Linked DNA regions of Homo sapiens. The protein of the gene in region 2 interacts with the protein of the main gene of each other region in a biochemical or structural test. Each region holds a gene or a part of one and is shown on either strand. Other genes may lie near its edges.

Region 1 (3,500 bases), on a different chromosome or scaffold from region 2:
CATAGTAGGGGCCCTACTAAAATTTTTTTTGTGTATTTCACCAAGGCAAACACATATAACAGAAAATATATACTTTGCGCCCTTGACTTTCACAGATTTAACATTCTCCATTTTGATTACTCATGAAGCCCATGACATACCCATCTATAATTTTCTTCAATAATGAATGTGAATCATGAATCTATAGCTCAGTGGAGCTCTGTAAAACTCTATCGTGGTTCCAGATATATCAATGTGCATTGAAATGATAAGTGGAAAAAACAGAGCTACTAAAACAAAACTATTTGCTAGTGTTTGAAAACAAAAGTGAAGAGGAATAAGAAAGTTATAGTTGATGGCAAGAAAATCAAAGGTTTCAATGAATTATATCCTGGTTTAAATCTATAACATGAAAAAGTCAAATACAGTGAAACACTCCGTAAGTTAAAAATAGAAAAAATATGATTTATGGAACTACTTAATTTTGAGTGTAGCAACCAGCCACTATGAGAACCAAAGCAACTATTTTCTTTTTCAACTTGCACTTACTTATTGTGACTTGAAGATAAAGTTACATATACCTAACAGTGAAAATATCATTGAAGAGAATGATAAAATCAGACACAACATTTTCTTGCAAGTAACGTGTGATATAAGCACTTCTGCAGCAAAGGACTAAGCTCTGTAGCAAGTAAAGTCTGGTTTCAGCGTTAAGAAGTGTATTTCATAGCATAATGTACAATAACAGGCAGAAGTGGCCAACCACATTGTCACAGATGTCTCTGCCTAAACTAAGGAAGCTCCTAGAAAAGTTGGGTATGCAGGAGCAAATGACACTAGAATATGATTAGAAAATGTGTTTGTGAACGTACATATACAAAGGGAAGACAGCACCAGGGTTTAACCCCGTGACTTTACATCAAGCATACTCTACCCTTCCAAACCAGGACCCCAAGGCAAGCATGAGAAGTTACAGCACGCATTTTGGAAGTCAGTAACAACCTTCAGGTCACAGTGGCCTTGAACAAGTTCCTAAGAGATCCTTGTTAGGGTCAGTAGTCGACTGTGTGCATTTGCTTTCATACAGTAATTCTTGGTGAAAGGAAAAAAAAAACAACAACAATACTTTTTAATCGCAGGGACACTTACTCATTTAAAAAACACTTTGAAAATTGCTCATCTCTTAGACTTTGATGTGGGTTCGAAGAGGGGACAAAGAAATCCAGTAAGGTAGATAATATATACCTTCCACTCAGTTGTATTCTGTCTGCAAGTTTGGAAAGCTGATCTGGAAGTCTTCTTTGTTTGATTACTCCCTCAGGTGTGACAGAGACCTCACATAGTGAATATTGATCCGGGGTGGCAGTAACAGCAAACTCCCTGATAGCCTGAATGACCACTTCCTTTGCTGTAGTGTCCTTACTGATCATGATGTAGCGGCTTTGCTGATCAGCCTTAAAAACCCTTAGCACTTGATCTGGCAAGTCTGGGGGAAAGAAAAATCACACACATAAGTAGAAAGAATTTTAATATATGGCAATGCAATTAAGCAAAGTAATCAGAAAAAAGCTCCTTAAGAAAAAGCAATGCTGAACTTTTACCTCTCCCTTACTCTAGGTCTTCCTCAAAGAATCAATCTACATGCTGTTTTGCTGCAAGAACATACCTTTCCCTAAAAGATAACAGATTGAACTACAGACAGCTGCAAGCACATCAGTACACAACAGTAGCACTCAAGACTGTCATGCTGGCATCAAAGAAATAAAATTTAAATCCAGAGTTAATCTTTACTGTATTGAAAAGTCCATTAATTAGACCTAAAATATGCCTCTTACTCTATCTATTTGATATGATTTAGTAATCATGGCATGGGATGTGTTATCTTCATTTTATGAAAGAAGAAACAAGTTCAGACAGATAATTTGCCTATGGCCATATAAAAATACTCTGCTGAATGTAAAGAGAACTGGTTCCAACACCTGATTTCAAAAATCTTAAAGTTTAAGTTTCATCCTTACTCAGCATCTGATATAATCCATGCCAAATGAAGAGAGATACATATAATATGACCATTATGTTAGAAATAAAAAGATAACTATAAGAAAACAAAAGAAGTGTTGGTGATACTCACCAGGAGTAGCACTGAAGTCTAAAATGCGATGATGTGACTGCAATAAATCAGGATTACTGGATGATAAGGTTCCACTGACAGGCAATGCAGTTGGGATGTGCTTTGTCTGCCTTAATCCTACTATGCTGTCATCTTGAGACTGACCAATCCCAATATCACTGAACAAAGAGGAAAATTAGAAAATTATCAACAAGTTAAAAAGTTGTACATCATCACTATATAATAAACACAGACCAAAAACCATATTCCATTTTTTTTTTGCAGCTCATGTAAAAACACCATTAATAAATTTGGTTGAAAACTGCAAAAGCAACTACTGCTTAAGTGTATCCAACTCATTTTCCTGTTTTTGTTTTTTGTTTTTGTTTGTTTGTTTTTAGATATAGCATCTTGCTTTGTTGCTCAAGCTGGGCTTGAAACTCTTGGCCTCAAGTGATCCTCCTGCTGTGGCCTCCCAAAGTGCTAGGATTACAGGCATGAGTCACAGCACCCAGCCTCATTTTGCTGTTTCTTAAGTGTATAGTATGTTTCTCTAAAACCTATGGTTTTTCTTTCTTTTTTTTTTTTTTTTTTTTTTTTGAGATGGAGTCTCACTCTGTCACCCAGGCTGGAGTGCAGTGGTGTGATCTCGGCTCACTGCAAGCTCCATCTCCCAGGTTCATGCCATTCTCCTGCCTCAGCCTCCTGAGTAGCTGGGACTACAGGCGTCCGCCACCATGCCCGGCTAATTTTTTTGTATTTTGAGTAGAGATGGGGTTTCACCATGTTAGCCAGGATGGTCTCGATCTCCTGACCTTGTGATCCGCCTGTCTTGGCCTCCCAAAGTGCTAGGATTACAGGCGTGAGCCACCACGCCCGGCCAAACCTATGGTTTTTCTAAGTAGATAAGCCATAAAAAATATTAGTAGTTTCTCAGCACAGAAATATATTTAAAAAAAAATAAGCTCTAGTTTCTGATGGAAATGGATTTTAAAAAAAGCACATTAAAAAGAATACATTTAACTCACTCAACTGATAGTTCTGCATCAGAATGATAAATTATTTTATAATCTGACCTTCAATAGTTGAAGAAATTGGGTAAAATGAAAACAGGAGGAAAAAAATCCAAAGTGTCCTAATTTTATTCTCGATGTTTTAGAGAAAAAATGAGATCACTATGGAGTCAAATGTAAGGAGACTGACACAGACATTATTTCTTGATTATACAGAGCATAAAAAAACAGTGGTGCATGGTGACATTTCCTAGCATCAAAGAAAAGCCAACAGAAATCCAATGACTCACTTTTAATTCTCTGATCAAAATTTCTAGCTACACATTTAAGTATCCAGAGAAATACTGGTTATTATCGACAGTGACAAACTCATTTCCATTTATAAAAAGCCTGTTACT
Region 2 (3,500 bases):
ACACAGCTAAAAAGTGGTATGGCTCAGTTTCAAACTGAGGCGAAGCGGATCCTCTTGCACATTACATGCTCTGTGTGCAATATTGTCTCCCACTGAGAAAACTCAAAACACACAGGAATTCAGAAGTCCAACATTTCAGGCTATGGAATATTCCACTAGATGAACTTGAAGAGTCTCAATGGACCACAAAAGATTTATGAACAAGCTTGAGTTCCCTAAGAGGTGATGTCAATATATCAAATGAAAAGAGATCTGTGTTTACTCTGATTTAACCACTTTGCATTTCTTGGCTGGAGAGAAAGAGGGAGATAGGGGATAGGATTTTGGCTTTCGTTTGTTTTGCAAAATACCACATTGCACATAAGTAATAACTCTTAAGGAGTACTAGAAAGTTCAAGCAAAAATCAGAGAGGAAGAAGCAAGAACAAACACCAGCAGTGAGATTAAACTGAGACAGTGGTGAGGGGTGGGGAAGGATGCAAAAAGCACATAAAGCAGGCCAGGCATGGCAGCTCACACCTGCAATCCCAGCACTTTGGGAGGCCGAGGCTGGTGGATCGCCTGAGCTCAGGAATTCAAGACCAGCCTGAACAACATGGTGAAACCCCATCTCTAGCAATACAAAAATTTAGCCGAGCATTTATGGTCCCAGCTACTTGGGAGGCTGAGGTGGGAGGATGGCTTGAGCCTGGGAGGCAGAGGTTGCAGTGAGCCAAGATTGTGCCGTTGCACTCCAACCTGGGTGACAGAGTGAGACCCCCGTCTCAAAAAAAAAAAAAAAGCTAGATTTCTCTCTTAAAAGGCATCTCTTTATTCTTAGTTTGTTTGGCTCCTCTCCTAAGAGAGTTAGTTACAGCTATTTATCAAGGTGAACTAATATGACTTGGAATTTATTTTGTTTTGCTGCCTTGAGTAAGAGAGAAATGAAAGGGGATTGTTTTCATAGCAAGGGTACCTAACGATAAAGTACACTTCCCAAAGGCTTAAGTGAGAGGTTTGATACAACAGACTAGCTGCTGTTTCTTTAGGGTTATGAGGACTAACAAATGAATGATATGATTTTGCTAAGAGTATTGCATACTGATCATGCAATGAAAAGCCTTATGTCAGAGCTATGGCTGGGCTATTTCACAACCCAACCAAGCATCTAACACAGGAATTCCTTGGGAAACACAGACATCATTTGTACTGTATTCTTCTAGTAACTAACAACGTGTGTGCATTGTTGCTCATCTTGGCTTTTTAGCATGTACTCAATGACCTGCCAGATTTTCCAGGCAACAGTGCAGAATACATTCAGGTTTCATGATGCTATTTCTGCTAATCAGGGCAAATTTTGAAAAACACTATGGCAAACACATGCACATGGAATTAAATTTTCCTCTGGGGACCATGCAGGCAGTTCTTGCAAAAAGACCACATAAATTGAAAATACTAATGCAAGCTACAAAATCAGGTCTGGCTTGTACTTAAAGCACCTTTTGTAAAAAAGAAAAAGAAAATAACTTAGACATGCTCTTTGATAAGCACAGGGAAGAACTGTATTCCAGTGGGGTTGGAATGTCATTTTGCACCTGGTGAGTGTGGAAACTGAACACCATCTTCACTGGCTTTAACACAGTAGGTTTCCCAACAATCACTTGGCCACAGGCCTCTCCATTTTGAGCAATTTCCAACAGTAGGCTTTGGTGTGGTTTAGACCTGGGGCAGGGAATAGGTCTTCTTGGTTTGGGTTCTTTTGTTTGCTATAGCTTGTGAAACACCTAATTGTGAAGTGAATCTTAATTTATTAAAGTTGTTTCTCAAAACTGGTAACAAAGGGTGGAGGAATAATTATGAATGTAAACAAGGAACAGCCAACTCATCTGTGCTAAATGGCAAAACATGTTCTTGATGGTAAGTTGTAGAACATGGGCTCATGTTCTGAACCACGGGCTCAAGTCTGACCCTGCTGCTTCCTGGAGCCAAATGTCTAGATATTTGAGTGCAGTTTGCTCCCTCAGTCCCTCCGAAGGCTGGAGAGTACGGAGGACCCCTGGCAGCAAGGACTAAATCAGAACAGCACATGATGACATGCAGCCTGGGATCTCAGACAACTGGTAAAAGGAAAAAATAAAAATATACCAACCTCACGCGGTTCTATAGTTTTTTAAGAATTCCACAGAGCGAATGCAAGAAATACAACCATGTGATGACATCCCTGGGGCTCAATAAAGTGGGAATTATCCCTGTCCCCATCTACCTTCATATTTACAATTTAGTCTCACCATTTAAAATGTTCTTTTTTATATGTATGTTTGATAAGACAGATAATGTTCATCATTTTAACAACTGCAAACACATAATTAAGTTGTTGTTTCTTATAATAAGCCATTGTTTGTTTCTTTTTGAAACTGTGGAATGGGCTAAAAGCAAAGGGAATTTAATCATAAATCTCTTTGTGTCATTCCCTTCAACTGAAGCCATGTGTTGGCCACTCCCGCCCTAGGTAATTTAAATCCCAGACTCAAGACTTAGGCCCTTTGGGGTCAAGCCCTTGTTTTCTTCACCAGGCCTCTTTCTGGCCACTTCCCTGCCCATCCCTCAACTCTTTCCACACTCTGCTTACTTGCAGCTCCCCCAGTTCCCAACTCTGTTCCTGCTCCAGGCCTTGTATGAGCGCCAATCCCCACCCCTGCAAAACCCCAGCGTCCAACCGCTTTCTTCTAGCTCAGGGGTCTTCACAGGTGAATGCGTGTAACACAATGCATTGGAATGGCAGGAGAACATACTTCACATTTTCTTCATAGTCATATTTTAATTTCATTATTTAAAATACTCCCTTTTGTACGTAACTTTTTATAAGGCACATAATGTATTCGTTTGGTACTGTGTACACATTATATATACAAATAAAATATGGTCCTCTGATCTAGCAAATTCCTGTTCAACCTTCTGAACTCAGCTCCAACGGCCCCTCCCCAGGACACCTCCTCCCGCAGGGTTAACTCATCCCAGGGCATCATTAGCTGTGGGCAGGCACAGAGTACATCAATGAGAGCAGTGCTATGCTCTCCCAACTCATCAGTCTCTCCATCTGGAGGTGAGCTCCATGAGGGCAGGGCACACACTATTCCTATCTGGATGGCTGGCATCTTCTCGTCCTTTAGGTTTCTGTTTACTACTATCTCCTCTTGTCTTTCCTGATAACCCAAGCTAATGATACCCTTTGCTTCTTGGCTGGTATCTGCCATGTGCCATCCTCCCATTTTTTTTTCCTTCATCATACTTCTTCCAATCCAATCTCTAATTATTGTATTCACTTGTTTCTTGTCTGACATCCCCACCAGGACTCAATGACCACAGGGCCTCAGTCTTTCTGGCCTCCATTGTATCTCCTGGCCCTTAGCAAACAGCCTATGTTCAATACTTATTTGTTGAATGAAAGATTTTTGTTTTCTTTTCCTTTAACTACTTTCCTTTTAAGCTAATAAACAAGGAGATGGTCAGGAAAAGAAAAG

What was found. The genes of interacting proteins can lie anywhere in the genome.
Region 1: the proteins of PDZRN3 (region 2) and RAPGEF2 interact in a test that uses a peptide from one of them, tested with the Homo sapiens proteins (one large-scale study listed by IntAct).

Annotation. Positions count from the first base shown.
Region 1 is NC_000004.12:159,337,079-159,340,578, reverse strand, and holds part of RAPGEF2 (rap guanine nucleotide exchange factor 2), read right to left. Parts: intron 2,269-3,500; coding exon 2,111-2,268; intron 1,466-2,110; coding exon 1,225-1,465; intron 1-1,224. UniProt on the Homo sapiens protein: Functions as a guanine nucleotide exchange factor (GEF), which activates Rap and Ras family of small GTPases by exchanging bound GDP for free GTP in a cAMP-dependent manner.
Region 2 is NC_000003.12:73,604,442-73,607,941, forward strand, and holds part of PDZRN3 (E3 ubiquitin-protein ligase PDZRN3), read right to left. Parts: intron 1-3,500. UniProt on the Homo sapiens protein: E3 ubiquitin-protein ligase. Plays an important role in regulating the surface level of MUSK on myotubes. Mediates the ubiquitination of MUSK, promoting its endocytosis and lysosomal degradation. Might contribute to terminal myogenic differentiation.